Linked DNA regions of Homo sapiens. The protein of the gene in region 2 binds, or shares a complex with, the protein of the main gene of each other region. Each region holds a gene or a part of one and is shown on either strand. Other genes may lie near its edges. The genes, in order: HUS1 and RAD1. A codon is read from its position in the direction of its gene.

Evidence for each region.
Region 1: the proteins of RAD1 (region 2) and HUS1 are in contact, whole or in part, in a crystal structure (PDB 8GNN), measured with the Homo sapiens proteins. Residues at the interface, in NP_002844.1 of Homo sapiens: Asn85 (codon at 2,657), Val88 (codon at 2,648), Asp91 (codon at 2,639), Cys92 (codon at 2,636), Ser94 (codon at 2,630), Ile95 (codon at 2,627), Phe96 (codon at 2,624), Gly97 (codon at 2,621), Ser98 (codon at 2,618), Gly127, Val128, Val129, Thr130, Val131, Cys132, Lys133, Ile134, Asn135, Gln137; in NP_004498.1 of Homo sapiens: Thr165, Ser168, Val169, Lys172, Met173, Asn175, Ile176, Glu197, Leu198, Val199, Cys200, Val201, Thr202, Thr203, His204, Phe205, Lys206.

Annotation. Positions count from the first base shown.
Region 1 is NC_000007.14:47,973,131-47,988,417, forward strand, and holds the start of HUS1 (checkpoint protein HUS1), read right to left. Parts: upstream 6,486-15,287; 5' UTR 6,390-6,485; coding exon 6,338-6,389; exon of another isoform or gene 6,280-6,337; intron 5,687-6,279; coding exon 5,559-5,686; intron 5,464-5,558; coding exon 5,287-5,463; intron 3,708-5,286; coding exon 3,600-3,707; intron 2,558-3,599; coding exon 2,483-2,557; intron 1-2,482. UniProt on the Homo sapiens protein: Component of the 9-1-1 cell-cycle checkpoint response complex that plays a major role in DNA repair. The 9-1-1 complex is recruited to DNA lesion upon damage by the RAD17-replication factor C (RFC) clamp loader complex.
Region 2 is NC_000005.10:34,910,868-34,926,573, forward strand, and holds the start of RAD1 (cell cycle checkpoint protein RAD1), read right to left. Parts: upstream 4,638-15,706; 5' UTR 4,549-4,637; intron 4,095-4,548; 5' UTR 4,026-4,094; coding exon 3,828-4,025; intron 2,712-3,827; coding exon 2,603-2,711; intron 946-2,602; coding exon 687-945; intron 1-686. Other genes in the region: BRIX1 (ribosome biogenesis protein BRX1 homolog), read left to right, coding at 4,872-5,030, 7,497-7,608, 8,973-9,016, 11,350-11,420, 11,672-11,721, 11,828-11,901, 12,134-12,184, 12,266-12,367 and 2 more. UniProt on the Homo sapiens protein: Component of the 9-1-1 cell-cycle checkpoint response complex that plays a major role in DNA repair. The 9-1-1 complex is recruited to DNA lesion upon damage by the RAD17-replication factor C (RFC) clamp loader complex.

The DNA.
Region 1 (15,287 bases), on a different chromosome or scaffold from region 2:
GTCATGACTGTAAGTTTCCTGAGGCCTCCTCAGCTATACAGGACTGTGAGTCAATTAAACCTCTTTTGTTTATAAATTACCTGGTCTCAGGTAATATCTTTTTAGCAGCGTGAAAACGGAGTAATACAGGCACACATCACAAAGTACTGCTACATGATGTGGTCTGAAGACAGGCAGCATCGACATCTCCCAGGAGCTGGTCAGAAACAGAGCCTCAGGCTCCAGCTCAGACCTCCCAAATCAGAACCTGCACTTTAACCAGATTCCAGGGGATTCACACGCATGGTAGAACTTAGAAGCAATGTCTTAGAACATGATGTCAATTCCCTCCAGTTCTTGCTTCTTTTTCTGCTCCTGCATGAGTCACATACAACCCACCCCATCAGTCACACCTCGCATTTAATGAAAGGAAGTAACTGGGCATCTCTAATGGGAAGGTGGGCATTTTTAGTGTGTTAAGTCTACCCATTTTCCTTAATTCTACTGCCTGTAATATTCAGATACAGAATTCTGGATACCCAGGAAGACCTCATTATGTACTTTGCTACAGTAACTTGATAACTTTCCATTTAGTAATTCCAGATCGTAGTAGCCTCTCCACAATATTTCTATGTTTTTTTAAACTCCAAAAAAGAGAAAACAAAACACCTCTGATGATTCTAAGCTACCCTTCTACCTCTCTACCTTGCTGACTCATTTTCATTGAACAGAAAGAACAAACAAATGCCATCCTTCAATTAACAGCCCTGTCTTTTCTCTCCTGGGCCTCTCTGAATTTCTCTGGAAGTCCCCAGGGTATCCCCAGATGAAGCCAGCCTGACAACTGGATCAGCATCACTGCAGTCACAGGTGACACCAACGTCAGCACAGTGCACACTGCTTCATGGAAAACAGATTTTATAGATTAAGTTATGAAGGAAAAGCTTTGAGTTACCCAGGTCCAATGACAGCATTGCTCTTAGTGTGCAGAACTCTAGAAAAAAACAGTCAAATGTACATTTTCTAGGCTTCAAAATACTTTTGTGATTTCAAAGACCTCTTGAAGCTAAATTTTGTTCCAGATCCATGCAACACTTATTGCTGCCTACTGAGTGGCAATCCCACACTGGGCAGCTGGGACACAAAGATGATTAAGATGGGGTTTCCTTTATCAAGAAGCTGGTGGTTCACGAGACCTTCAGAGATCTTAGCAGGTGATTTACCATGTACACTGGACAGCTCAGCTCCATGGAGGAGCTTCCAGAGGGGTGGTGGGGAAAGGTCTGTGATGAAGCATGAGAATGGCTAAGTGCCTTCCAGGGAGATGGAGAGAAGAAGCCATGTGTCAAATGGCAAAGAAACTGAACAAAAAAGAAGAGGCATTGTGGGGGAATACCAGAACCCAGCCTCGTTCTGCAGGGAGGGTGTGGCAATACAACAGAGATGTGGCTATAAAGGTGGCCTGGTACACTGTCAAGATCAAAAGTTTATGCTTCATCAGGTGGACAGTGGTTTTTAGAAGATTCAGGGACATAACCAAGGGTGTTTTTTGGAGCAGGATAGGAGGGAGCAGGGGGAGGAGGGAGGGGCAGTGAGTGAAGGAAGAATTCACAATAACCCCAGGTATGAATGAGGATAACCTACACATTTCCCACCACTGTCACACACTGTAACATTTCGAGCCATGTGGCCATAGGAGACTTCCACAAAATAAACAGAAAATAAACAGAAATATAAAAGTGCCCCCTAGCTTGGTGTGAGGTGTGCTTGGAATAAAGGCTGCTATGGTGTGGCATATCTTTGTCCCTGGCTCACTGAAAGACACTTGGCACGCAGACAGGAAACTCCAAACTCACTGTCAGTCATATCAGTGACTCACAGAAAAATACGGGCACGTTAGCAGGTAAAAGATACAATGTTCCAGCCGGGCGCGGTGGCTCACGCCTGTAATCCCAGTACTTTGGGAGGCCTAGGCGGGCGGACCACGAGGTCAGGAGATCGAGACCATCCTGGCTAACACGGTGAAACCCCGTCTGTACTAAAAATACGAAACAAAAAATTAGCCAGGCATGGTGGCAGGCGCCTGTAGTCCCAGCTACTCGGGAGGCTGAGGTGGGAGAATGGCATGAACCCGGGAGGCGGAGCTTACAGTGAGGTGAGATGGCGCCATTGCACTCCAGCCTGGGCGACAGAGTGAGACTCTGTCTCAAAAAAAAAAAAAAAAAAGAAAGATACAATGTTTCATACAAAATATAAGAGGAAAAACAGGCAGATTAAAGGCAAATATAAAAGCTTTCCTCAAAGAATTAGAGTTGAAAAGTATTGGAATAGGTTTCTAAATCCAACTAGCAATCTGCAGGTTCTCAGCACCAGGCCAGGTCCTCATAAGTGGGAACTCGGTTAGGAGGTGCCCACCTGCATGGACTGCTGCAGGGTGAGCTGGAGAACCCACGCCGTCCCACCAAATACTTCAGAGTTCTTTTCTAAAGAAGTTGTGACTTACAAGGTGATTGCTGATGTTTTTCATTTTTTCCACAACACTCTTCATAGTCTTCAAGACTGGTAAATAAATACTAACCTACAAAACCAATGAGAAAAAAGCACAAGTATTAAAAATATTAATATACTCTAGTAATGACAAGGGCCCCATAACTAACTCTAGAACACATGCATGCTCAAAAACTATGGGATACTATTTTACAATTTTCTGAATAAAGTTCTTTTAAAAATATAAAAAGAAAACCAATTCTATTTCACTAACTCAAGGATGCTCAAGCAAAATTAAAGAATGGAATGCCTGCCTCTGGTTACCTCAGCAACCATGTCCCTGTGGGCATTCTTTTGGCTCAAGAAGGAATAGGGTACTTCAGCTGAGATGCCCCTATATTGGTCCAGGGGGAATATAACTCAGGCAATCAGCAGGAGGCCCTCCTCTAAGGGACATTTACACCTATGATTCAAGGGCCTTTTCCATGCTCTGTACAAAAACATGGCAGACAGTCACTGCATCACATCTGAGACTGTTACCAAGAGTGCTCTATAAAACACAGGCTTTTTCAAAATCAGTGTAGGTGCCATCTAGTAAAAGTCAAGTAATTATTTTACCCAGCATATTTCTGTACTTTCTTCTTAAACAAATTGTGAGCAAGAGGAAATGGGCCCTTTGGCATCATCTTTACTTTCAGGAGCTCTAGGGTTAACCATCGGCATGACCGTTACCCCATGTTAGCCCTAAGCCATGAAATTCTTCTCTTCTTGGCTTTCGTGCACATCCAGATATCGCTCCTGACCGGCTGAGGAAAAGATCAAGTCCTGTGAAACCCAAATTGGTGTCTAAGGCCAAGAATACTAATAAATACTAATTGTCCTCCAAAAGTATCATTTGTGTTTTAAGTGATGTTACTGAGCGAGACATTTTCTACATATAGGATGGCATGACATTTCTATCATATGCAACATTTTTAAGATGCTTTATGTAAATAACAAAAGGCAAATAATCTAATGTTTTCGTTAAGTATCCTTTAAAAATAAAATATACTGCAAGACTACAACTAAAACTAGAGAATTCAAGTCATGCCATTTAATGTGGGGTGTACAGCAGGACTGCAGGCATCACCTACATCAGGATCTGGGACCACCGGTTCTTGTAAGTCCTTCCACAATTTCCTAGGAATCACCTTTATGGGGATGTCATGGGTCACAATGCGGCTACTGCTTGACATAGATAACTGCCAAGAAAAGAATTTAAAAATATTTTTATGTTGTTAATATTAAGCAACAACAAAACAAACCCGAAGACCCGGGACAAAAAAGTTGAAATACCAAATCTAAGTGGAATGCTGTCAGTTTATTCACTCAAAAGCCATTCGACCAATATTGATGGTGCCAATATTTATGGAACAGACTCTGGGTACTTCCAGGAACTGGGAAGTGTGGTGATAAGACAAAAAGGTCCTTAGTGTTCCAGTGGAACAAACAGATCAATAAAAATGCAAACAAATGAAACTGTATGAAATGCTCATTATAGCCGTGAGAAAGCACTCCACAGAGACCAGGGTGAGTGTGGGGGAGTTTCCTTAGACTGAGGAGGTGACATTTCAGATACCACCAAAAGCAGGAGAAGCAGCAGCCATGGGAAGACAAGAACAAGGGGACAGGGTTTCAGGCTGGGGAAACAGCACATGTAAAGCCGTGAGGCAGAAAGAAGCAAGCCTGCTATGTTGACGCAACCAAGAGAAGGCCATTCTTTGGGCATAGGACACTCAGAGTGCTGCAGTTTCTAACAGTTAAAAGGCAAACTATATTTATTTCTAGGGGCTCCTATGAGACTCACAGACCAAAATATCTTGCACTTTTGGACAAAAAGTATTATACGTTACTATCTTGCTTTTCCTTAAGCAATAGAAAAAACATACCAAACTTATACTGTGACATGAAATGCCCTAATTAGCTCTGAGAACTGCCTGACTGCAAAGAGTTGAGAGTTATGAAGAAAAGCTGGGCTGGGCGCCGTGGCTCATGCCTACAATCGCAGCACTTTGGGAGGCCGAGGTAGGTGGATCACTTGACGTCAGGAGTTCGAGACCAGCCTGGCCAATATGGTGATACCCCGACTCTACTAAAAAAATACAAAAATTAGCTGGGTGTGGTGGTGGGTGCCTGTAATTCCAGCTACTCAGGAGGCTGAGGCATGAGAATCGCTTGAACCCGGGAGATGGAGGTTGCAGTGAGCCGAGATCGCGCCACTGCACTCCAGCCTGGGTGATAGAGAGACTCCGTCTCAAAAAAAAGGAAATACGAACCTCATTCTATGAGTAGGAAGAGCAACTCTGGATTGTATGTATGCGCATGAGTTTGTGTATTTGTGTGTTTGGAGGACAGCTGTGCACTAAATTCATCTGGCAGTAGCATATAAAACATACGTGTACTGAAGAACGAGGGGCCATTTAAAGGTTATTATAGCAGATGAGGCAGGGTGGGAGTGGGGAGAAAACATGTCAAAGGTGAAAATGGATAGAGAAACCATGATTTCTAGACAAGGTGACAATACCACTACAAGAAACAGAGAGGCTGGAAGTTTCACGGCTTGGAAAAAGCAGCATTCTAGCTGAATGCATATGATAACAACACAATTTTAAAATGAGGAGGAACTGACTCTAATGCAAAATATAGTTATGGACCAGATCTTTAAATTTAAATAAACCAAACAGCTTTCAACAGTATTTATTGTTAAAAAGGCTAGGCTAACTATGTCTATTCCTTCGAGGCCAAGACTTCTGTGTTAGAAACCCTGACTCTCCTACTCACCAGCTCCACGGAGACCGTGAGGCAGGGAAAGTGTTTATTAGTCAGTTTGATTTTCAAAGCCCTGGCATTCTGGGCAGTCTTCAAGGCTCGAGATAAGTTTTCCGATGTTAGCTCTAAATAAATCTCATTGTTTTCTGCAGAGACACCCTCCATTTGAAATTCGTTGAAGAAGTTCTCCTAAGGGAAAAAAAATGAGGGATGAGGGAGGGTATATGTGATCTTTCCAGTGACAATCTGCAGAGTGTGCAGGCCTCTCAGAAGCTTTTGCTCACCTGTTCCAGCTCACACCACATGCTCACTCCTCCATTAGCCAGCTTGTCACAAAGGATGAAGTTAAGCTTATCAGGGCTGATGCGGAGGGTGCAGGTTTTGGCAAGCTTGGCTATCATGTTACTGATTCCTAAAGCAGGGGTTAAAATAAGGAATTACTAAAATGCACATTATGTATCCTAGAGACCAACTTATTTTGCAGAATTTCTTGTTCATCAACTTCTCGGTGGAAAAATAACCACTTAACGTTGGTATCACACTGGAAAGTACTTTAATACCCCTGATGTCACGCAATTCTCCCAACAAACTAGGGGAGATGTACAGCACACATCATCAGTGTTCAAATAAGAAAACAGGCACCTACCAGTCATTCATTCATTCAACATGGATTTATTGACTACTAGGTACTGCAATACACAGTTAAATGCAAGGTTAGGCACTGTCAGGGTGGAGGGACGAATGGGGCCTTGAAGGTATGTCAATGCCTGATAAAGCCGTCTATGGGAGCAGTGGCCGCTTTTTTTTAAAGCCACGTGATCGGAATCAAGTTTCAGAAACGTCCCTTGAAAGCCGCCTTCATCCCCACAAGTGCCCTCCGACCCGCCCCGCGCCCTCCCGGCCCCACCCTCCCGCGGCCTACACCAGCACCCCCATCCCGGCCCCATCCTCCCGCGGCCCCTTCCGGCGCCCATCCCCGTTCTGATCCTCCTGCGCGGTCCCCACCGCGCGCTCACTGCTTCCTTCCGTTCCTCCCTCGCTCCTCTCCGGCCTCCCTGCTCACGTGTGAAGTGGTTCAGACAGGCCCCGTCCACGATCTTGGCCCGAAACTTCATGGCCGCGGATGGCGCAGCCGCGGCGGGCCTCTGTGGGTAACAGAAAAGCGTCGCGCCCTGAGTGTCCCCGCCCGGAAACACGGCAGCGCGAACAGTGGTTCCGCCCGGCTCGGGCTACGCGACTCTTACCAGGGTTATCTCCGGGCCACGCCCCGGAGGAGGTGGGGCTAGGGGGTCACGCCCTAGAGGAGGTGGGGTCACGGGTCAAGGATCACAGGTCACGCCCCGGGGGAGGTGGGGGTCCCAGTCTCCGGGTATGCCTCCGCGCTGCCGGGTAATGGTGGGATCTACTTTTAGTGAGGCGGAGGCTTCAAGCCCCAGATTCGGGGAGGTTGTTCTGAGAATTCACGTTTTGAAAGAATTTTGTGACACCTATTTCAAGTGTTATTTTAAAATATCCAAATAAAATTAATCGTTTATAAAGGTTAAACAATATTATCTTAAATATACCTAAGGTAGAGCAGCTTTAAACCCTCCAGCCTCAGATGACGGTACTGGTACTTTGGTATTGAAGCATCTTGGTGGATTAAGGTTCTGAAAATTGTTTCAAATGACTTCTAAAAAAATTGAACATATTACTGGCTAGTTGGTAAAGTCGGGAAGCTTAAAGAACACTGACGTTAAGTGATAATTCTGCAGTTTGCCTCAAGACGAACTTTATTACATCCGATAAAATTCTTATTAGCATAAATAATGTCATTAGGATTTTTTTTAAAGGAAAAATTTTAAAGGGGGAAATGAAGCAACAATTGTATCTAATTTGGTTTTTCAAAGACTAAAGATTATCTGTGTTAACAATTGTTATTTTTAATGTCCTTTGCAAATAGACTAGAACCTTGTCTTTAACTTGACACATAGAATCAAGATAATGATAATGCAGATGATGATGATGATGATTTTGAGACGGAGTCTGGCTCTGTCGCCCTGGCTGGAGTGCAATGGCGTGATCTTGGCCCACTGCAACCTCCACCTCCCGGGTTCGAGGGATTCTCCTGCCTCAGCTTCCCAAGTAGTTGGGATTACAGGCACAAGCTACCATGCCCGGCTAATTTTTGTATTATTAGTAGAGACGGGGTTTCGCCATGTTGGCCAGGCTGGTCTCGAACTCCTGACCTCAGGTGATCTGCCCACCTCGGCCTCCCAAAGTGCTGGGATTATAGGCGTGAGCCACCGCGCCAGGCCCAGATAATTTTCAAAGACACATGCACACATATGTTTATTGTGGCACTATTCACAATAGCAAAGACTTGGAACCATCCCAAATGTCCATCAATAATAGACTGGATAAGGAAAATGTGGCACATATACACCATGGAATACTATGCAGCCATAAAAAAGGATGAGTTCATGTCCTTTGCAGGGACATGGATGAAGCTGGAAACCATCATTCTCAGCAAAATATCACAAGGACAGAAAACCAAACACCGCATGTTCTCACTCATAAGTGGGAGTTGAACAATGAGAACACATGGACACAGGGAGGGGAATATCACACACTGGGGCCTGTTGGGGGGTGGAGGCCTGGGGGAGGGATAGCGTTAGGAGAAATACCTAATGTAAATGATGAGTTGATGGGTGCAGCACACCAACATGGCACATGCATACCTATGTAACAAATCTGCACGTTGTGCACATGTACCCTAGAACTTAAAGTGTAATAATAATAAAAAGGTGCAAAATACAAAAATTGCAGTTTTTGCCTATTTTAAGACTATAACATGAAGCAAAATTCTAATCTTCATTGTCATATGCGAGTGTTTGCCAAACCAAACTTAATAGATCACTTTCAAAGTTATGCCAACAGGCAGGGCAGGATGGCTCTCTCCTGTAATCCCAGCATTCTGGGAGGCCGAGGCGGGTGGATCATCTGAGGTCAGGAGTCTGAGATCAGCCTGGCCAACATGATGAAACCCCGTCTCTACTAAAAATACAAAAATTAGCCCGGCGTGATAGCTTGTGCCTGTAATCCCAACTACTCAGGAATCTGAGGCAGGAGAATCACTTGAACCCAGGAGGCGGAGATTTCAGTGAACAGAGGTCTGCCACTGCACTCCAGCCTGGGCGACAGAGCGAGACTCCGTCTCAAAAAAAAAAAAAAATGTTGGCATAACTCTTTTTTTTTTTGGAGACGGAATCTCGCTCTGTCGCCCAGGCTGGAGTGCAGTGGCGCAATCTCGGCTCACTGCAAGTTCCGCCTCCCGGGTTCACGCCATTCTCCTACCTCAGCCTCCCGAGTAGCTGGGACTACAGGCGCCCGCCACCACGCCCGGCTAATTTTTTGTATTTTTAGTAGAGACGGGGTTTCACCGTGTTAGCCAGGATGGTCTCGATCTCCTGACCTCGTGATCCGCCCGCCTCGGCCTCCCAAAGTGCTGGGATTACAAGCGTGAGCCACTGAGCCCGGCCATGCCAACATTTTTTATTTGCCCCATATGATCTGCAGGAAAAAGCCTGTTTTTTAATTTCCTCATGAATGAGTTTTGAAGAGTTGAGCATCACATTAAATAAAGTGGCTGCTAGTAGATAAATGAATATAATTAAAGAATGTATCTAAATAAACTTTGTAAACAATGTTTTGTAACATCTTGATCTTTAGTGTAAATTGCTTAATTTTATGTCATAAAAACTGATAAAGCAATTTTTTAAACTTCCTAAGAAGATGTGATATGATACATTCTGCATGGACAAAAGCCCAAATAATATAGGAATTTGACTCAAGAAATAGAAAATAAAGCTGCAATTATCTTTTCTTGGAAGAAGAAAGGAATCTTTTATGTGCTCTTGCAATTTTCTTAAACAGGTTTAGCAAATTAATTCATTAACTTCAGAATTGACAATTAAGTATATTGACACTACTTCTCTACTTTCCAAATGATTTTGAGGCAAGGAATGTGATCTCTAGAGATTTCTAGAAGCCCCATGTACCACTGAGTTTTCTAATGCAATGTATATTCATGTTCTCATCTAGCTACAGTAAATTGCCTTCTGACTTAAGAACTGCCAAATGTCAGGGATTAGTAATTCAGTCACACAATGATTTGGGAAACAGTGTTCACGCTGTTCATTAAGTTTGTTTAGTGGGGAGGTAAATGCCTTAATCTTGTCTTAGAAACTGAAATAAACAGTGGTGCAAATAAAATGTCATTCAGGATGCATATAGTTGGAAGTAAGGGAAATAACCTCTCTACAGCTGCAGATGGTAAACTCTGTCTAGGTAAGTATTTGGCCAGTCTCTTTCAGGTACTTACTCATCTTCTCTAGTCCCTGGGGGAAGAGACAGCAATTTGCAGCCCTGTTGTTAGCAGTTAATGTTGGAAAAATTACCCAAGGGAAACAACGTGACTAGCTCACATGTTACGCATCAAATTTGAAAGGCAGTATTTGTCTTCTTTTTTTAACATGAGAAAACTGTAAAATGAAGGAAAGCATACCCTAGAGGTGGCATGAGTGAATGTCTTTTGACAACTGTACTTGTTCTAAGAGATGGGTTTTTGCTTAAGCAGCTCTTCAAAGACTCTTCTCCTCTTTTAGGTGTCAAAAAAATTCTTCAATAAATTCCATAGATACTTTTCTAAATGAAGATTTGTGGAGCACATGAGAAGTGTCAGGCATGGTGGTGAGTGATGGGGATTAAGGAAGGGGACCAGCCCCTACTCAAGAGGAGGGTGATCAACATTTATTGGATGCCTTTAAAGCACTATTTAAATATTATTGATCAGTAGGGTGAGATAGATAGCTCTCATTTTATAGCACTCTGCACTGATATCATCACTTAGATAATATAAACACACGTAAAATAAGTATGATTATTCCCATTTTATTTTATTTTATTTTATTTTAGATGGAGTCTTGCTCTTGTTGCCCAAGCTGGAGTGCAATGGTGCAATCTCGACTCACTGCAACCTCTGAGTCCTGGGTTCAAGTGATTCTTTTGCCTCAGTCTACCGAGTAGCTGGGATTACAGGCACCTGCCACTACACCCAGACCATTTTTTGTATTTTTAGTAGAGATGGGGTTTCACTGTGTTGGCCAGGCTGGTCTCAAACTCATGACATCAGGTGAGCTGCCTGCTTCAGCCTCCCAAAGTGCTGGGATTACAGGTGTGAGCCACAATGCTCGGCCTATTATTCCCATTTTAAAGATGGGGACAGATAGAATTGGCAATGTTGGCCATGGCATGCCCTACCTCACACTCTTGATGAGAATCTGCATCACTGGATTGCTGAGTGTCCAGTGACCCACATGCTCCTGCTGACTGGACCAGCTCTATTTACACTTGACCTTCAGGAAAACAATTGATAGTGTGGAAATAAATGAAGACCAACCAAATGGAACAGGCAAAGCCTATTTATTCAGAGTCAGCCATTATCACTTGCATTTCAGCAGAGACTCAAAGGCAGGCAGAGAGGTAGGAACGCTTCATAGTGGAAAAGGAAGGAGAGTATAGTGAAGTAACAGAAGAGGTTACAGAGCATGTTTATTTACCAGCTAAAGCTAAAGTGGCAAAGGAAGGAGAGGTTCATCCCTACCCTTCTGCACCCCCTTATTTCCTCCTGGGAAATATTACTGATGAATAACATTTTATATACGGCATTTTGCACATGGTAAGTTTTTTAGTCAAAGGATATATTCATCTCGATTTTTATAGATAGGCCAAGTTCCCTCCATAAATGTTATACCTATTTGCATTTCTTCCAGCAACGTGTGAGAGATCCTGTTTCCCCAAAGCCTTGGAATAAAACATTATCAAACTTTTGGATCTTTCTAATTTCATCAGTGAAACATGGTACAGTATAATTTTTGCCATTTTTCTTAAGTAAATAAGCTTGAATATCTTTCATGTGCGTCTCTAGATGATCTGTTTACTGGCCATTTTTCTATTGGGTTATTGATATTATAATTGCTTTCTTGGGACTGTGTATATATTGGAAAGATTGGTCCTTATAATGTCAGTTGTGAATATTTTTTGCATTTTAAGTTTTGTTGGCCATGCAGAGGTTCTTGATTTTTATATAGTGGAATTTTTTTTCTTTTGTGGCTTCTAAATTTTGAGTCATATTTAGGAAGACCTTCCTCTATTCAATACCATACAGGAATTATCCCAAGTTTCCTTGTTAATATTTTTATGGTTTTATTACCTACTTGTATATATTTTACCATACTGGGAGTTTGTCATATTGTAAAGTGAGAAATATGGATGGAATTTTATTTTCTTAATGACTGGATAATTGTCCCAAGCCATTTGTTTTTTTCCCCCATACTCTTTTGAGATGCTACCATTATCATACACCCAACTTCCACATACATGTAAATATATTTTTGGACTTGTCTGTTGTTGGGAACAGGCCCCCCAAAATCTGGCCATAAAGTGGCCCCAAAACTGGCCATAAACAAAACCTCTGCAGCACTGTGACATGTTCATGATGGCCATAACGCCCACGCTGGAAGGTGGTGGGCTTACCGGAATGAGGGCAAGGAACACCTGGCCCACCCAGGGCGGAAAACTGCTTAAAGGCATTCTTAAGCCACAAACAATAGCATGAGCTATCTGTGCCTTAAGGACATGCTCCTGCTGCCATTAACTAGCCCAACCTATTCCTTTAATTCAGCCCATCCCTTTGTTCCCCATAAGGAATACTTTTAGTTAACTTAAGATCTATAGAAACAATGCTAATGACTGGCTTGCTGTTAATAAATATGTGGATAAATCTCTGTTCGGGGCTCTCAGCTCTGAAGGCTGTGAGACCCGTGATTTCCCACTTCACACCTCTATATTTCTGTGTGTGTGTCTTTAATTCCTCTAGCGCCGCTGGGTTAGGGTCTCCCCGACCAAGCTGGTCTCGGCAGTCTGTTCCATTGGTCTATCTGTTTGCCAGTATCATACAGTTTTAACTATTGTTTTATACCTATGTCATAGAGCTATTTCTTTTTGTTGATTTTTTTTCAGAGATTTTTCTGGCTGTCCTTTTGCTAAGTTTATATTTCCATATGAACTTTAGAATCAATTTTATTTAAAACATACCCCCCTTTGGGTTTTTAAAAATATATACATGTCTTAATTTTTAAAAAACTTTTTAATTGAAAATATCGAACATATATAAATCTAGACAGAATAATATAATGAAGCTCCATGGACTGGCAGCATTCAACTTCAATGATCATTTCATGGCCAATCTTTTTCATGAATTTTCTTATCCATTTCTTCCTCTTATGTTATTATGGAAAAGATCCCACATATATCATTTCAACTTTAAATATTTAAATATGTAAATAAAAAGATTTATTTTAAAATCATCATTTTAGTACCATTATCATACAGACACCTATAATTTATTTTTTTCAGACAGGGTCTTGCTCTGCCGCCCAGGCAGGAGCACAGTGATCATGGCTCACTGCAGCCTCAAATTCTTGGGCTCAAGTGATCCTCCCACCTCAGCCTTCCAAGTAGCTGGAACTGCAGGTGTGCACTGCCATGCCCAGCTAATTTTTTTATTTTTAATAGAGACAGGGTCTCACTATGTCACCCAGGCTCATCTTGAACTCCTGGAGTCAAGCAGTCCTTCTACCTTGGCCTCCCAAAGTGCTGAGATTATAGGTGTGAGCCACCGTGCCCAGCCCAAATTATTTTTTTTAACGATAATTCTTTAATATCTCATAACTGTCCCATAAAGTCCATATTTTTCTGCTTTTTAACTGAGATCAAGTTACATTTATAAATTAACTTAGAACTGACATCTTGACAGTTGAGTTTTCCCATTGAAGGATACAGTATATGGTACATCTATTTTTCCATTTATTTTACTGAAGTCTTCTTTTTTTTTTTTTCTCCAGACAGGGTCGCCCAGGCTGGAGCGTAGTGGCTCGAACACAGCTCACTTGAAGCTTCAACCTCCCGGGCTCAAGTGATCCTCCCACCTGTCTCCTGAGTAGCTGCAACTACAGGCATGTGCCAAGACGTCTGGCTAATTTTTAAATTTTTTGTAGGGATGGGGTCTTGCTGTGTTGCCCAGACTGGTCTCAAACTCCTGGGCTCAAGTGATCCCCCAACCCTTGGCCTCCCAAAGTGCTAAGATTACAGTTGTGAGCCACTGTGCCTGGCCTTAAGTCTTCTTTTAGTCATTCACTGCTGTTTGGGATTTTTTTCACATAGATATTTTACTTTCTTCTTTTATTTGATGTTTATTATCTAAAGATAATAATGGATTTTGTAAGTTATACCCTGTTGTTTTTATGAATGATATTGATTTATATATGGGAATTTTGCATCCACGAACTTACAACAGTTTTTCCTTGTTTCTAATTCTTTTAAAATAGACTCTATTGCATTTCAAGGAATTCATCAAATTATCTGCAAATGGTCATGGTCAGAACTCCTCACTAATTTTTACCTCCAATTTAAAAATTACTGGTTTCCTATCTAATTGCGCTGACCAGTGCCTCCAGATCAGCACTAAATGATAGTAGTGATAGTGGACATCCATGCCTGGTGTAAATAAATGAGTCCGTGAAGGCAAAGATGCTATTATGGGAAAGACTGATGATGAGACTATCTTCTTCTAAATACAAAATGAGTTTTCAATGCTCTAACAACATGAAGCATCCTTAAAGACTAAACTATGGCAAGGATATTTAATTTACTTCCATATTTTTTTATTAGTAAAATGCATTTACTTTTTACAGGCAAGTATGAACCACTTTGAGGTTTTCTTCCCACTCCCAATTCTCAATTCCTATGGGTGCGGTATCATCTAAGAGAATAAGCATTCTTGAATATTCTGGACATGTGGCATGGCCTTCTGTACCAACTCTTCTAGATGTGCTTGCCTGGTGTGCCATGGACCCTGAATCGATATAAACAAGTATACTTCGGGTGTCCCCAGTTGCTAAAGATATTAAGTTTCACACATAATAAATATTCAGAAACTGCATGCTGAAAATAAAGAAAAGAAAATCAATGCCTTATAACGAAATTCATCTCAAAGAATCCCAATGAATACTGATATAATTTTAAATTATATACTTTTTTTTTTTCGAGATAGGATCTGGCTCTGTCACACAGGCTGGAATGCAGTGGCATGATCATGGCTCATTGCCACCTCTACCTCCTGGGCTCAAGTCATCCTCCCAGCTCAGACCCCCGAGTAGCTGGAACTACAGGCACACGCCACCGCACCTAGCTAATTTATTAATTTTTTGTAGAGACAGGGTTTTGCCATGTTGCCCAGGCTGGTCTTGAACTCCAGGGCTCAAATGATTTACCTGCCTAGGCCTCCAAAAGTGATGGGATTACAGGTGTAAGCCACCACGCCTGGCCTATATACTTTTTCTTTTCTAACATAACTATTTTCAAATATCAGTCTAATGAATGAGAAAATAAGCTACTGGAATAAAGAGCTTATGAAAAGATAAGTAGAGGGAGAGGAGGATAATATGGCGGCCAAGTGACCTCTCTATTCCGCTGTTTCCCCCCTCTACACTCCTTGCTGGCTGTGCCGAGGAGCAGGGGCAAGAGGGCTTGTTGTCTAAAAACCAGAACTATGAAGCCAACTATAAGAACAGATAATATGAGCCCAAATGCATATGAATACATAATCAAATATGAAGCTCTACAAATATGCTCATTTCTAACATATATGTATTGTTTTACCTTTATTTTCTCACTATTTGGCCAAAAAGTGTCATAAAACACTTGTTTTTACATGATATAAAATGTCTTCTACATCTCTTCAGTTACTCCCTGTGGCTAATTTAAAAAATGAGGATATATTTCATTTGCCTTGGTGAGTTTCAGGGGATTTATAAGCTAACAGTTGATATTTTCTCCCACTGGGTTAGGAGTTTTACTTGTATTATCTGATATTAAATCTTTATCCTCTATTCCTTTGAGCTTCTCTCTGC
Region 2 (15,706 bases):
CTGAGTCTAATCCTGAAAAGAGACTTGTGTTAAACTATCAAGAACAGCTTTTTTGACATTGTACTCCTGCTGAAAACTGCCCTCCCTTGGGAAGCCAGCCTTGAGCAATCCTCCCTAAATCCTTATACAGCATTTCCCAGGTATCTGTGTGTGCTATCTTGGTACTTAATGGTTTGCTGTTTCACATTTTCTTGGCTTCACCTTGGTTTTAAGCTGTTCTTCCCACAATGCTTAATAAGATGAATAAGCACACGGTAGGTGATCAACAGATACTTAGTGAATGAATGAGCCACGTGTAGAAAACATCTTCTTCTGCATCCTGAACTAACTTGAAAAAGATACCATAATACAAACACCCTTTCCAAACACTTAAACCCAATTTTCCTCATGATGTAACCTGATCTATGAAAGTAAGGAGTAGTACAATGAAAACACCACCAGTTTATAAATTAGAGGACTGGGCTTCTCATCTAGATGCCACCACCACCTAAATATGAAATAGTGAGTTAATCTTCCTGGGTCTTAAGTTTCTTGATCCATAAAATTATGAGGTAAGAGTACAAGCTGTCTAAAGTTGTGAAAACTCTAAAAATGTGGATAATAAAAATTTTGCATCCTAAGCAAATGTCTAAGTGGGAAGATGGAGTACAGACCACATTAACTATAACTGCACTGCTCTCAAGTACCTGAAATAAGGCTTGTCAGGAGACATGGTAATTTGTAGGACTTCACTCGTCATATCCAATTCAGAAAATGCTTCACGGAGCCCCTCTGACTGCAGAATAATTTTATTAATAACATTGGTGCTGCAGAAATCAAAGTCCAGGGTCTCCTCAGGTTCCTGTGTATTGATTTTGCAGACTGTCACCACTCCTCCTTCTTCCAGGAACAGCATCAAAGGGTAACCATAACCTTGGTAACACATTCGAAGTGCAGTTAAAGTCCCTGCAATGGAAAGAAGTCATACTTGGCCTTAGCTTTATAGTTCTGGGTTCAGCTTCTCCTCGAAATGATACATAAAATTTCTCAAGAATAATTTATTCCGCCCAATTTCTCACATATATGTATCTCCTCATAAAAAGGGATGACATCTTCCCTGATGACAGTTGTGTGTAGAGAATTCCAAAACTACAAGAAAATTGGGAACCAGAACAAAATGTAACATAATTCTTTGGAATCATTTTCAGGTTGTCATACACACCTCAGAAATAGCTTGTTGATTTTATATATGTACAATTTCAGGGTAGAGAATCTATATGGATCAACACAGCAAGTAACTAAATTGCTGCAGAACAGGGTATGCTATTCCTTGAAGGTTCAATGTGTGTAACAGTGGATTGCTGTCATCTGTACTGTAACGTCAGTGTACTCACTATGACAAGGATCCTTCCAACTTTTCCAACTGGGAGATATTCTTTATATTTCCTCGAATTTAAAAATCAAATTGAGAGAAAAAGAGGGTTGTTAATGGTGGTGTAAATTTTAACTCTGCAAACCACTAGAGGGAAGGAGGAATATGACAGGATATTCAAACTCCTTCTCCTTACTGGATTGAGAGCCACAGTGAGGAATGGAAGATGACAGATGCTTCTGTGAAAAACTAGCTGGAGAACACTGTATTAGAAAATGTATAATTAATAATAGTGGAATTGTCTGTGGAAACGTAAAATACATTTTTCTGGAGAACTATATTGAATTTTTCCTAGCTAATCTCCAGGTTGCTTTCCTATGAAATAAAATCATTCTTCTGGGGATTCCTTAGTTTTATACCCACAGCAATTCAATTTCACCATTCTTAAAAATTCCCTTAACAAATAAAAAAATATATATTTTAAAGAAAATCATTCGGCAACCGGTTGCGGTGGCTTATGCCTGTAATCCCAGAACTTAGAGAGACTGAGGCGGGCAGATCACCTGAGGTCAGGAGTTTGAGACCAGCCTGGCTAATATGGTGAAACCCCATCTCTACTAAAAATACAAAAAATTAGCCGGGCGTGGTGGCACGTGCCTGTAATCCCAGCTACTCGGGAGGCTGAGGCAGAAGAATCACTTGAACCCGGGAGGCAGAGGTTGCAGTGAGCTGAGACTGTGCCATTGTACTGCAGCTTGGGCAACAAGAGAGAAACTCTGTCTCAAAAACACCACAAAATCATTTGGCAAAATAGACATAACTTATAAAATATGGCTTAAAAGAAACAAATTTTGAACATAGTAAACTAGGAGTCAGAACTGGCTTTTGTTTTTCTCTGCCACTAACTAGCGGAGTAATTCTGGACAAGTTAGGAAAAAGAAGCAATTAAAACATTTCACAATGCTAAAAATATTTAAGACATGTCCAAAGTATTCTTTTGGCCAGTTCGAATTTACAATCCCTCAAAGCCTTGTAAATTAAAAAAAAAATGCAAATACTTTTACAAATATGAAAAGAATTATAAACACACTTGCAATTAACATTGTGAAATGTTAGAACCCATGACTGTGGCCACTGAAAAATGAATTGGCATTAGCTTTCTGAACCAATGTTTATGTTCCAAATAACTTCCTGTATTTTTCTGACCACTATGTATAACACTTTTATGTCTTTATACTGATCATAGTTTACCTGGCATAGGACTTGATCCAAAAATAGATAAACAGTCTAAAAGGACAGTTAAATTAATTCGAAAAGTAACAGACTCTTCCTGAACTTTAAACTCCTGAAATATTCCAGCCTATGAAAAGAGTAAAAATGAAAATTGTTACATAAAAGAATAAAAACTAATAATATAAGGTCCTAGATTTCACTTTATACGTTTAAAAAATACAATACTGTGCTAATCCCATGAGAATAATTTCTGATTAGCAATCAAAACATCTTAGAGACATCCTTTGAAGCATCCTTATCTCCATTCCTGGATCTAAAACTATCCCTCTGTGACTCTCCCTTGTCTCGTTTTTGTGCCTATCACTACTGCTAAGGTCACTTGGAAAATAGACGAATGACTTGATAATGCATGAGCAACATTAGTTTCAACTTTTATTATGATTTTTTATTGATACGGGGGTCTCACTATGATTACCCAGGCTGGTCTTTAATGCCTGAGCTCAAGCGATCTTCGTGCTTCAGCCTCGGTCTCCTGAGCAGCTGGAAATACAGGTGTGAGCCACCATACCATGCCCCTGCATGAGGACAAGAACCGTGTCTTATTTACCTCTCTATCCCTGAGATCATGCTGTGCACTTACGTGTTAAAAAACGCTTAGTTGAACTTGCAATCCTATCTGAACCACACAAATATTACTTTGGAAGAACAAAAATTCTATTACAACCAGTAAAGGAAAAAAATACTCTTTAGTAATAGCATATCGCAGTGGAAAAAAGAGCATATATTCTGGAAACAAATATTCAGCGTTCTTATCCCAATTCAGCCACTTACCAGCTGTGGGACTGTTGGCAAATCACTTAAAATTGTGCCTCGTTTCCACATATATAAAACGGGAATAATAACAGAACCTACCTTACAGGACTATTGTTAAGATTAAATAAGTTAAACAATAAGAAGACTGTAGCCTAGCCAATAGCCTAGTTTAATAAACTTTAGTCATTACTAACCATTATCTCTGTAAAACAAGATGGGAAAAGAATTTGTTACCGGGAGAGAAAAAAAATTCAAGTAATGACGTTTTGTTCTCTAACTTAAGACTATTATTTATTTATTAAGTTATTTATTATGACTATTGACAAGTTATTATGACTATTAAGTTATTTTGTCTACTGAAACCTTCCGATTTCATTAAATTACATTTAGAGTATCTATGGCACAGGCTTAAAGGCGCCTACTTCCATACCTGAATAAAAGCATTTGCTTGCACACACTTTGCATTTTCCACTGTTACTTTGATACCATTTTTAGTTGCGAAACACGTGGCATGTTCTCGGAAATGAATAGCTTTCAAGATAGTGGAGAGATTCCTAACGTTGTCAAGGCTGGCCACAAGGCTGTACTGATCATCCTCGTCTTGGATCTGTTGGGTCAGAAGGGGCATCGTCCACTGCGCATTCGGCCCCGAGGGATGCTCCTGGGGCCAACAACTTCTCGGCGGATCGCCAAACACCTGAAGGGATTAGACAGTAAAACTCCCATCAGTGCTGGCGAGGTCCGGCGAGCTCCACCTGCGCTGAGAGGTGGAAAGGGGCTGGGAGGCTGAACACGGCTGACCAGGCCGAACCCCACCTATGTCACTTAACTATCTTTGTAATTCTGGAGGAAAATTATCTAAGCTACGGTTTCCTCGTCTCCGTAAGAGGACAATAACGTGAAAAGTTGTGAAGAATGAAGACACGCAACTGACACGGTATCTCCCGGCCAAACAGGAGCTACAAATCCGCGGGGAGTCGGTTTTGTGCAGCCCGCGCCACCAGCCCCGCCTCCAACAAAACAGGCGATGGCGGGGCGGGCCCGGAGTGTCCAGATAATCCTCCAAGAGTCCCAGACAACCCCATTCACCAGCCCGCCCGCGGGACAGCATCGCTTACTAGTCTCGGGGTCCCCGAGTGCGGAAACCCTACCTTTGCGGTGGGGTCTGGACGCCCGAGAGCCCTTCTCAGCAAAGTCCCTGAAGAGGAGCGAGGCGGCTCCGAGGAACCGCGGAGGAAGTGAAGCCAGTCCCGCCACTCTTCAGACCGGCCCTCCACCTCGGCCACCGTCACCACAGAGCTGAAGGAGGCCTAGAGAGCCGCGCGTGCCGCGCCACCGAGACCGGAAGGAGGCGGCACAGACCTGGAGGACGACCGCGGAGCTGAGCGCTTAGAGCCGCCGAACCATAGAGATCGGAAATAGGAGCGAGCGGCAGCGCCGGAAAGGAGGCCAAGAGCGCGGGCGGCGAGGCAAGATGGCGGCAACCAAGAGGAAACGGCGTGGAGGCTTTGCAGTTCAGGCGAAGAAGCCAAAAAGAAACGAAATAGATGCGGAGCCGCCAGCTAAGCGGCACGCCACAGCAGAGGAGGTGGAGGAAGAAGAGAGGGACCGGATCCCAGGCCCCGTTTGCAAGGTAGGAGGGGATGTCCCCGGGCTACACCTGCGGCGGCGGCTCTGTGCGCCTTTTCTTGGGTTACTTACTTGACTACAGCCTTGCTTAATTTCAGAGTAGCCCGGGTGTTAACGGTAGGTCGGTTTTAGCAATTCTCCCGGCCAGACTGGGCACGGAGTTTGCAGCTAATCCTTGTGCACGTGGCCGTCTTCCTGGAGGCGGCGGGTTTTAAAACCTTTACCCGGCCCACGGGGAAGCGACTTACAGGGTGCTCAGATCCAGCGTTCTTTCTTACTAGTTGTTCAGTTGTTTTTTTTTTTTAATGTTTTTGGAGAGTAGTGCTTTTCCTTGGTTATTTCTCGCTATTATTTCTCCAGTGATTAGTATGCCCATATACTGCCATAGTCAGCCACTCTCAGTCAGGGATCCTGAAGTACGTTAGGGGAGCCTTTAAAAAGTTGTTGCCCTTGGGACTGTGACTCTGACTTGTTAACCAGGTCATTAACTCAAGAGATACTGAAAAATAGACTAGGTAGTATGAGCTTTACTTGTATTCAACAGACATTGAATGTGCCATGCACTGTACCAAGTTAGGCTTCCTTTGGGTTTGAGATTGCAAAGATGACTAGAATGTGACCTCTTCCTCCTGAAATGTTGGAGTTTAGGAGGAAACTTAAGAATTCAAATAAGTTGATGGTTTTTATTCAAAAGAAGTGCACACAAGTTGTTAGAATTAGCTTTCATTCAACTAAGAACTCTTCTTAAGCTAGACAGAATACTGTGAACAAGGATTATCTTTGACATTAATTTTTGCGTCCTCCGCACTTAGCATAGTACTCTAGCGCGGAGTAGGTGATAAGTAAATGACCCCGTGTGGTGTGATGGCAAGCTCTAAGAAAGAAGTGAGCTCTGTGGAATGAAAGATAAGTGTAAATTCTAGCCCCGTTATTAACAGCAACATTCTGTGCTCTTTTCTGACCTGCAGATTGGGGGGCAGGGGGAGGGAATATTTACTTTTTATGAAAAATAAGCTGGACTTGTACACTTCCAGTAAATGTTAGTGTTCTCACTCTTCCCTTGAGCTAGGTAGTATCTATAATCTGAGCCATACTTCGATACATTCTATGGAAGTGCAGGAGATATAGATTATTTTTACCCTAGTATAATAAGATAAAGAATCATGAAGGATTTAGCCCGTAAGCTGCATATCAGAGGAAGTGTAGAATTTTGACATTCAAAAAATGAGAGGGAACACTCCAAGGGAGAAAAAAAAACCGATGAAAGACTTTGAAGTAGGGAAATGCTGAAAAATGTAAAAAATAGAGCCAGATTGGATTGCATTAGGCTTCATTTGGGGCAATAATGATGTAGACGTGAAAATCTATTTTAAAATTCAGTGTCAAAGCTATGTCATTTGAACTTTGTTTAGAAAACTCTGGGAAGTAAGGATGTGATGGAAGTATTACTTTAAAAATGGTCCAGCGTGGTGGCTCACGCCTGTAATCCCAGCACTTTGGGAGGCCGAGGCGGGTGGATCACTAGGTCAGGAGTTCAAGACCAGCCTGGCCAAGATGGTGAAACCCCGTCTCTACTAACACTACAAAAAAAAAAAAATCAGCCAGGTGCAGTGGCGGGCACCTGTAATCCCAGCTACTCGGGAGTCTGAGGCAGGAGAATCGCTTGAACCCGGGAGGTGGAGGTTGCAGTGAGCCGAGATCGCGCCACTGCACTCCAGCCTGGGTGACAGAGTGAGACTCCATCTCAAACAAACAAACAAAAAAAGTAAACTGTTGAAAAAGCTAGTCAACCATATCTATTGGAGGTGCTCATGTCTGGGAAGGTTAGCCATTTAGGAGTTTTGCAGTTAATATAAGACTCTAAGTAAGTGCAGTGTGAATAAGAAAGGATTAAGAGTTGTGGGAAATTATTATGAGACATCTGTCATGGAGAGCACAGAAATAAGAGGGCTAAGAAAGAACTTTTAGGGTTGGAAGGAGGAATTGGAGAGATTGAAGTTGAAAAACAAAGAAACCAAGGAGGGCATTTCTGGGTGGCAGATGTGGTCAGTGAATGTTGGTGAGAGATGAAATTAAAGGAGTCAGGATGGTTTGACTTGGTTATGAGCTACTTGGAAGCTCATAAAAAACAAACAGGGCCAGGTGCGGTGGTTCTTACCTATAATCCCAGCGCTTTGGGAGGCCAAGCCACTTGAGCCCAGGTGTTGGAGACCAGCCTGGGCAACATAGGGAGACTCCCATCTCTACAAAAAAAAAAAAAAAAAAAACTAGCTGGACATGGTGGCACATGCCTGTAGTCTCCAGCTACTGTAGATGCTGGGGTGGGAGGATCACTTACTTGAGCCCAGGAACTTGAAACTGCAGTGAGCCGTGAGCACTTCAGCCTGGGCAACAGTGTGAGACCCTGTCACAAAACAAGATCAGTTCAGTATAAGATTTTAAAATCTTTTAACATTTTCTTTTTCTTTAGGGAAAGTGGAAAAATAAGGAACGGATTCTCATCTTTTCTTCCAGAGGAATAAATTTTAGAACAAGACATTTAATGCAGGACTTGAGAATGTTGATGCCTCATTCTAAAGCAGGTGCCTTTATATCATATACTTTAGAAATTTCTATCTATAAACTTACCTATTTTTATGTTTTCACTTATTTTATATATTCTTCATTTGTTCAGTGTTCTCACGAAAAAAACACAATGCCTTTTATCCTTTCAAGTGCCACAATTTTTCCAGTTAACATTTCGTAAGAAATTCTTTAGATTTCATTAGGTAGATTCTTTACTTTTTAAAACAGGTGTCCTAATATTATTGAAACATTTCTTGAAGGTCCAGGAATGCCTTCACTGTAATGCTTCTGAAGGTCCTGAGATAGGTGGGATGGTTTGTCCTAAGTGCTAAGGACTGCCACATGTTGCTTTTTGGGCCTTTTTTTTTTTTTTTTTAACTGTTTTTATTGAAAAATGGACCTGGGATAGAATTCAAAGCACTTTTTAAGTTGGAGTCAGAGCCTATTTCTAAATGCCAGGTTATTTATTTATTTTTAAGCAGTGGGTTATTTTACAGGCAAGAACAGTATGGCCGGGCATGGTAGCTCATGCCTGTAATCCCAGCACTTTGGGAGGCCGAGGTGGGTGGAACACTTGAGTCCAGGAGTTCCAGACCATCCTGGGCAACATGGTGAAACCCTGTCTCTACAAAATAAAAAAAAAAAAAAATGAAAAAAGTAAAGTAAATTAGCCAAGTGAGGGGGTCACTTGCCTGCAGTCCCAGCTACTCAGGAGTCTCAAGCAGGAGGATGGCTTGAGCCCAGGAGTTCAAGGCTGTCATGAGCCGTGATTGCGCCACTACATTTCAGCCTGGGCAAGGAGCAAGACCCTGTCTCAAAAAAAAAAAAAAAAAAAAAAAAAAGTTTGGAACAGTGGAGTGGCAGCGCCATCATATGGCTGTTGTTGTGCTTATGTTGAGAGGTGCTTTGGGGTTTTTTTGTTTTTTGTTTTTTATTTTTAAAATTTTAACTTATTTTAGATTCAAGGAGTATATGTGCAGGTTTGTTACACGGGCATAAAGTCAGTTTTCTTTGACACCTAAGATTAAAAAGTGAAAGATATTTTCATTGAAACTGGTTTCCTTTAACACAGTCTTTGGTTTGTGAGAATTTTCCCATTTTTGAAAAGGATTCCTAGAATACCTAAATATTGAGAAACACTGCTTACACTATAATTTCTAATTCTTACAGACTATATTTTACTTATTTTCTTTACATTTACAAAGAGTCAAGATTTTTGAGCGATTGTTTCCAGCTCTTGTTTTGAAAATTAGTAATAAAATCTCCTTTAAACTGAAGAGTGTAAAAACACTTTATTTTCTGGATAGCATATGTGGTTTGATTGAAATAACTTTGAAATCACCTTTAATTTACTTGCTTTTTCTTTTTTTTCTTTTTCTAGATACTAAAATGGATCGTAAGGATAAGCTATTTGTGATTAACGAGGTAATTTTGGAAAGTAATTGCAACAAAATATTTTTAAAATGTTAACAGTGGCTTATTTCAAAACTAAGTCATTCAGTGACTTTAAAAATTATTTTGTAAAAACTATTCAGACACATTTTATTAACTCTTCAATAACTGGTCTTCCAAATTTTTATCTCTCACAGTTTAGTGCTTCATTCATTTCTGTTTGTTTTGTCTGAACAAGCATATTGAAATTTCCTCAGGAGAAGGATTATGTCCCATTTTTTAACCCTGTAGTGTCTAGTATTATGCTAAATCCATAGTAGGTACTCAAAAAATTATCAGTCAACATATATAAAGTAAAATAAGTCCATTAAACATATATATATATAAAACCCACATGGTAAAAAGTGTTTTGCCAGTATTAAAAGTGATTTGTGTGGAACTGGCTATTAAGGTATTACAAACTGAATAGGTTACATTTTCAAAGTATTGTTTAAGATACTACACTTAGGTATTTTTTTTAACCTCTGGAAGCACAGAACATAAATTTACATTTTAAAGCAAAATTTTCAAAACTTAGAAGAATTAGGATCATTTTTTCACTATTAGCCTTCTTTAGAGCACAAATTTTTGAACCTCTGCTGTAATACCACATTATTCTATGTGCTGTAGAAACTGTTCAACAGAGCAATGTCCCTGTCATTATGGAACTTACATTCTAATGGAGACAGGCCATAAACAAGGTTTATAATTTCAAGTAAAGACAGGAGAAATAAAGCAGGTTATAGGTTTTGGACAGCTGAGGCTACACCGGAAAAACCTGTTCAAAGGGATGGTGTTTAATATTTGAGCAGAGACGTAGTGAAGGAGAAATATGGTAAAAGACCATCTAGCTAGAGAAAATGGCAACTACAAAAGCCCAGAAGTGGCACAAACTTCCTATTTTTGTGTTTATTCTAAGACCAGTAAGAAACAAAAGTTTTGTTTTTTTTTTTTAAGTTGTTAGGGTTTGTTTATTTGTTTAACTGGTTTTGGAGACAAAAGTCTCTCTCTGTTACCCAGGCTGGAGTGAAGTGGTATGATCTCAGCTCACTGCAGCCTCTGCTTCCTGGGTTTAAGCAATTCTCCTGCCTCAGCCTCCCGAGTAGCTGGGACGACAGGCACACGCCAGTATGCCCAGCTAATTTTTTGTATTTTTAGTAGAGATGGAGCTTTGCCAGGTTGCTCAGACAATTCACCTACCTCGGCCTCCCAAAGTGCTGGGGTTATAGGCATGAGCCACCTCATCCAGCCATAAGTTGTTAGGTTTAAAGTCTTAAATAATGTGGAGTTTAAGAGTACTATATTAATTAGAGTTTATGAATACTACAGTAATACAAGCCTTCACTCCTGTAATGTTTTTGTGTCTTCTCAAGTGTGACTTTTGTAAGCCTTCAAGACATTGAAGTTTAATTTGAAATAGGTTTGATATACTTAGGCTTTTCACCCAATCCCTTAGTGATTTTATAGAACCAAATCACCAGAAATGATAGTATAAATGAAGAACAACTTAAGTTTTGTGATCTTAGAATCAAAAAGCTAAAAAGTTAAAAATCAAAATAATCATTAAAAAGGATGTTTTTAGTTCTATAAGTACTGCATTTTCATAAGATTGGCTAAGAAGATTGATTATGAAGGATTAACATAAGAAGATTAGTTGTGGTATGCTTTATCCGTAGGGCATCTATTTTTAGTCTTTGTAGTTTGTCAATGGGACTATGGGCAGAAGAGGTTCCTGGCCAGGTGAGGTGGCTCACACCTGTAATCCCACCACTTTGGGAGGCTGAGGCAGGCAGATCACCTGAGGTTGGGAGTTCAAGACCAGCCAGACCAACATGGAGAAACCCCATCTCTACTAAAAATACAAAATTAGCGGGGTGTGATGGCACAGGCCTGTAATATCCCGGCTACTCCGGAGGCTGAAGCAGGAGAATCATTTGAACCTGGGAGGTGGAGGTTGCGGCGAGCCGAGATCGTGCCATTGCACTCCAGCCTGGGCAACAAGAGCGAAACTGCATCGCAAAAAAAAAAAAAAAAAAAAGGAGGGAGGTTTCCAGTAATCAGAAGTGAGACCATTTTAGATGCTAGGCCCAAAAATATGATAGATAATTTCACCCAAGATATGGGCAGAGCATCTAGTTTACCTTGGGTAGAATACCTAAGAGGAACTTTAAAGGTTCCTTCTGTGAATAAATACATGTTTAGGCCTTTGTAGCCTATTAGCCTGGTTAGGTATTTTTGAGATAATCTGGATGATATTAATCACATATAATTACTTTAGTTCTCATTTATATTATCTACTTCATTTTCCTATACTTTGCTTCCTTTAGGTTTGTGAAATGAAGAACTGTAATAAATGCATCTATTTTGAAGCTAAGAAAAAACAGGATCTCTATATGTGGTAAGAGAATGTATTAAGATTTTGGTTAAACTCATTTAAGTGGATTTGTTCTTTGTACCTTTTATGTTATAGACTCCTAGTGTTTCATGTTAAGGGTTGAGAATGAAGCAAACTTTTGATTTCACGAAACTTGATACCTTTAAAGAAAATTAAATGTATAAATATTATAAGCATATTATTTATGGTGAATAGGTGGTAAGCATTGACTACATTTGCTAATTAGTTGAAAAAGCTTACTCCATATCTTTCAGGCTTTCAAATTCACCTCACGGACCATCTGCTAAATTCCTTGTTCAAAATAGTAAGTTGACTCAATAAATTTTTTTAGATGAGGAAATTAAAAGTAATCTTTTGAAATAGTTGTGCAAAAGTTACAACTATTTTTGTTTTTGTTGTAATTTTTCTAGTTCATACCCTCGCTGAACTGAAGATGACTGGAAACTGTTTGAAAGGTTCTCGGCCCCTTTTGTCTTTTGACCCTGTAAGTTTCTCATTCAGTGTATGAGGTCTAATTTTCTTATCTGGCATGGTTGTTTTTAGTAGATATAGTTGTGTTATTCAATTTAGTTTCACCCCCACCTTGGTTTTATGGATTATCAATTCTTTCAGGTACATTTATAATGAGGTTATAGCCAAGTTATAGAAACAAATGAGCAAACAGTTTTAAACAAGGCAGTCTACTGTTAAATAATATGCTTACCTTATTTTTATAGGCTTTTGATGAATTACCACATTATGCTTTGTTAAAAGAACTCTTAATTCAGGTAAATATCTTTAAAATTAGCTATCCAAAATATACATGATATATCTTGGAATAAGGAACTAACATACACTTTTTTAACTAGATCTTTAGTACACCACGGTATCATCCCAAAAGCCAACCATTTGTGGACCACGTGTTTACTTTCACCATTTTGGATAATAGGATATGGTTTCGGAACTTTCAGGTAAGCTTTACTTGATTTTTAATTATACCTTTTTTTTAATTGAGTTTATTTATTTATGTTTTGAGACAGAGTCTCGCTCTTGTTGCCCAGGCTGGACTGCAGTGGCACAATCTTGGCTCACTGCAACCTCCACCTCCCGGGTTCAAGCTTCTGCTCCCTCAGTCTCCTGAGTAGCTGGGATTACAAGCACCCATCATCACGCCTGGCTAATTTTTGTAGTTTTAGTAGAGACGGGGTTTCGCCATGTTGGCCAGGCTGGTCTCAAACTCCTGACCTCAGGCCATCTGCCCGCCTTGGCCTCCCAAAGTGCTGGGATTCCAGGCGTGAGCCACTACACCCGGCCTAATTTTTTTTTTTAGAGATAGAGTGTCGCAGTGTTGCCTAGGTTGGCCTTGAACCTCCTGGCCTCAAATCATTCCTCCTCAGCATCTTGAGTAGGTGGGATTGCAGTTGTGAGCCACTGTGCCTGGTCAATTTTTAGTTAAACTTTTAGATAAGGATATACAGGGTTTGCATACACAAAAAATGCAAATAATTCTTTTGTTTTAAATAGCTTCCTTTTCCCTAAAGAGATTGCTGCAAGTAACTATGTACTGTCTTATATCTTAAGTGAGCTCTACCTACTTCTATTCATGACTGTTAGTTGATACAGAGTATGGATTTCCTAATAAGCCATTATATATTTAACTTTATAGAAAGGGAATAACTTGAAGATCCATGAGATACTTGGGTTCCTAATTTGTAGAAAGTGCTGTAAAGGATACAGTAAAATAGAAGTTTCTCTCTCAAAGCTTAGAAGTTTCTCTCTCAAAGCACCTCAAAGGTTAAGACCTAGCAAAATGTAATTGCTCTAGAAGGCATTCAATGGCAGCGGTTAGATGATGAGTCACACAGTGACTCATTCAGGAGAAAAGAGGAGGTGACTCTAGAAATCTTGAAGCAGGAGTTTGGCACGATAAGTGCAGAAAGATGAAGAGGTGGAAGAGAACAGCAAGAACAAAATTTTAGACAGTATATGACATAAACTGAGCTCTTTTCTGCATATTTTATATTGGATACCTGGCATGTGAGTTGAACACATCATCCTAACCTCTGAGGGTAGACATGCCTGAACTAATAGATAACATAAATATTTGTTGTTCGGAAGTTGCCTTTTAATTCCATAATCAGTAGCTATTAAATAAATTTGACTACATATCCTTTTAATCTAACTTGAATTAGATTTATAAAAACAATTTAGGGATTGATTTAAGTTTCAAGAGTTCCCCCATAATGTGCTTTAATACATTTTGTTAATAGTGGTTACTGTTTTAAAATCCTGTTTAACCAGTTTTTCAAGGATATATGCATTGTGACAAGCAAGATGTGAACCAAAATCTAATTACTCAATTTTAAAAGAACTCACTGAAAAAACATTTTTCCATGACAACTTCCTATAAGTACTAATAGATTTCAGAAAATATTGATGATTTGCCATTTACCAAGTTTCACCCCCACCTTGATTTTATGGATTATCAATTATTTCAGGCACATTTATAATGAGGTTATAGCCAGTATACCTTTTGGGAATAACGTAACCAAACCAAAATGAAATGTTTCCTTTTTATTAAAGATCATAGAAGAAGATGCTGCTCTTGTAGAAATAGGACCTCGTTTTGTCTTAAATCTCATAAAGATTTTCCAGGGAAGTTTTGGAGGACCAACTTTATATGAAAATCCTCACTACCAGTCACCAAACATGGTAAGCGGTTGTGTCATTCAGTAGTCTTCAATGTACCAGAACCCTTTGGCCAAAATGATTCTGTGAAGTAATTGCTGTTTTATTACCTGTGAAACTGAATTTGGTTTTTGCTGCATAGAAACTTGGAAATTACTCCCTTTTTTCATGACACTGGCTGAAAGGATATATGGTTCATAACTGAAAGTCTTTGCCTTATATAAAATGTTTATTTTTATTTCAAAAGCATCTAATCTTTTTTTTTTTTTTTTAGCATCGGCGTGTCATAAGATCCATCACAGCTGCAAAATACAGAGAGAAACAGCAAGTGAAAGATGTGCAAAAACTGAGAAAGAAAGAGCCGAAGACTCTTCTTCCACATGATCCCACTGCAGATGTTTTTGTAACACCAGCTGAGGAGAAACCAATAGAAATACAGTGGGTAAAACCAGAGCCAAAAGTTGATTTGAAAGCAAGAAAGAAACGGATTTACAAAAGGCAAAGAAAAATGAAACAGAGGATGGACAGTGGGAAAACAAAATAAGTCAATGGAAACCTGATTTGTTTTTCAGTTACTTTATATTTATTTTGTATTCAATGTGTAAATACTTTTATTATCTAATACTATCTTACGTCTAATTAGTGTAGCATTTACAAGAAAGAAAAATTAAGATCTTAAAATCAGTGATTATCTTTTTCTAAATAAAATATCACCAGAATTCATCAGTTAATTTCTGATTTCTTTTTGAAGTTTGTGTTGCTAAAAATGTAGCACACTTAATGTAGCCTGTTCTCTTGGGTTGGAATTTTTGGTTTAGCAAAGCTGAAATTCAGACATTTATTAGGTCATATTATTTGTAAAAGCATTCAACACTTCAAGAGCATCGGTTGTGGATGGTAAAGTAGGAGTAGACTGGTAGAAAGGAAGGCATCTCACTGAAGTTTACTCAGTCATCAGTTAATGAAGCCATGGAAGAACCAACCCCTGATCTGTCACTTCAAAAAAGAGTATATTAAAATGTTGAGGTTTTGAGAATCAAATGCATTAATGGCTGTGTTGAAAGCACTTTGTAAATTTTTTATTTTATTATATTTTATTTGTGAGACGGAGTTTCGCTCTTGTTGCCCAGGCTGGAGTGCAATGGCGCGATCTCGGTTCACCGCAACCTCCACCTCCCTGGTTCAAGTGATTCTCCTGCCTCAGCCTCCCGAGTAGCTGGGATTACACGCATGTGCCACCACGCCCAACTAATTTGTATTTTTAGTAGAGTTGGGGTTTCTCCATGTTGGTCAGGCTGGTCTCGAACTCCTGACCTCAGGTGATCTGCCCACCTCGGCCTCCCAAAGTGCTTGGATTACAGGCATGAGCCACCATGCCCGGCCAAATGACATACTTATTTTAGAAGCAGTGTGTATAGATTACTTATTTAGAAAACTAATAGTAAAAGGAGAGAAAAATAGGACAGTTGTTAAAGGGGATACCAGAACATTTGAATTTTTCCCCACATGAAAGAGAAACTGCCTATTGTGTAAGGGGGCACTAGGCTTAAGATCTTATGGGTAAATTAGTAACGGAAAGAAAAGATTCTGAGTACCAGTGACCATGGAGGTAGGTGGCTGCT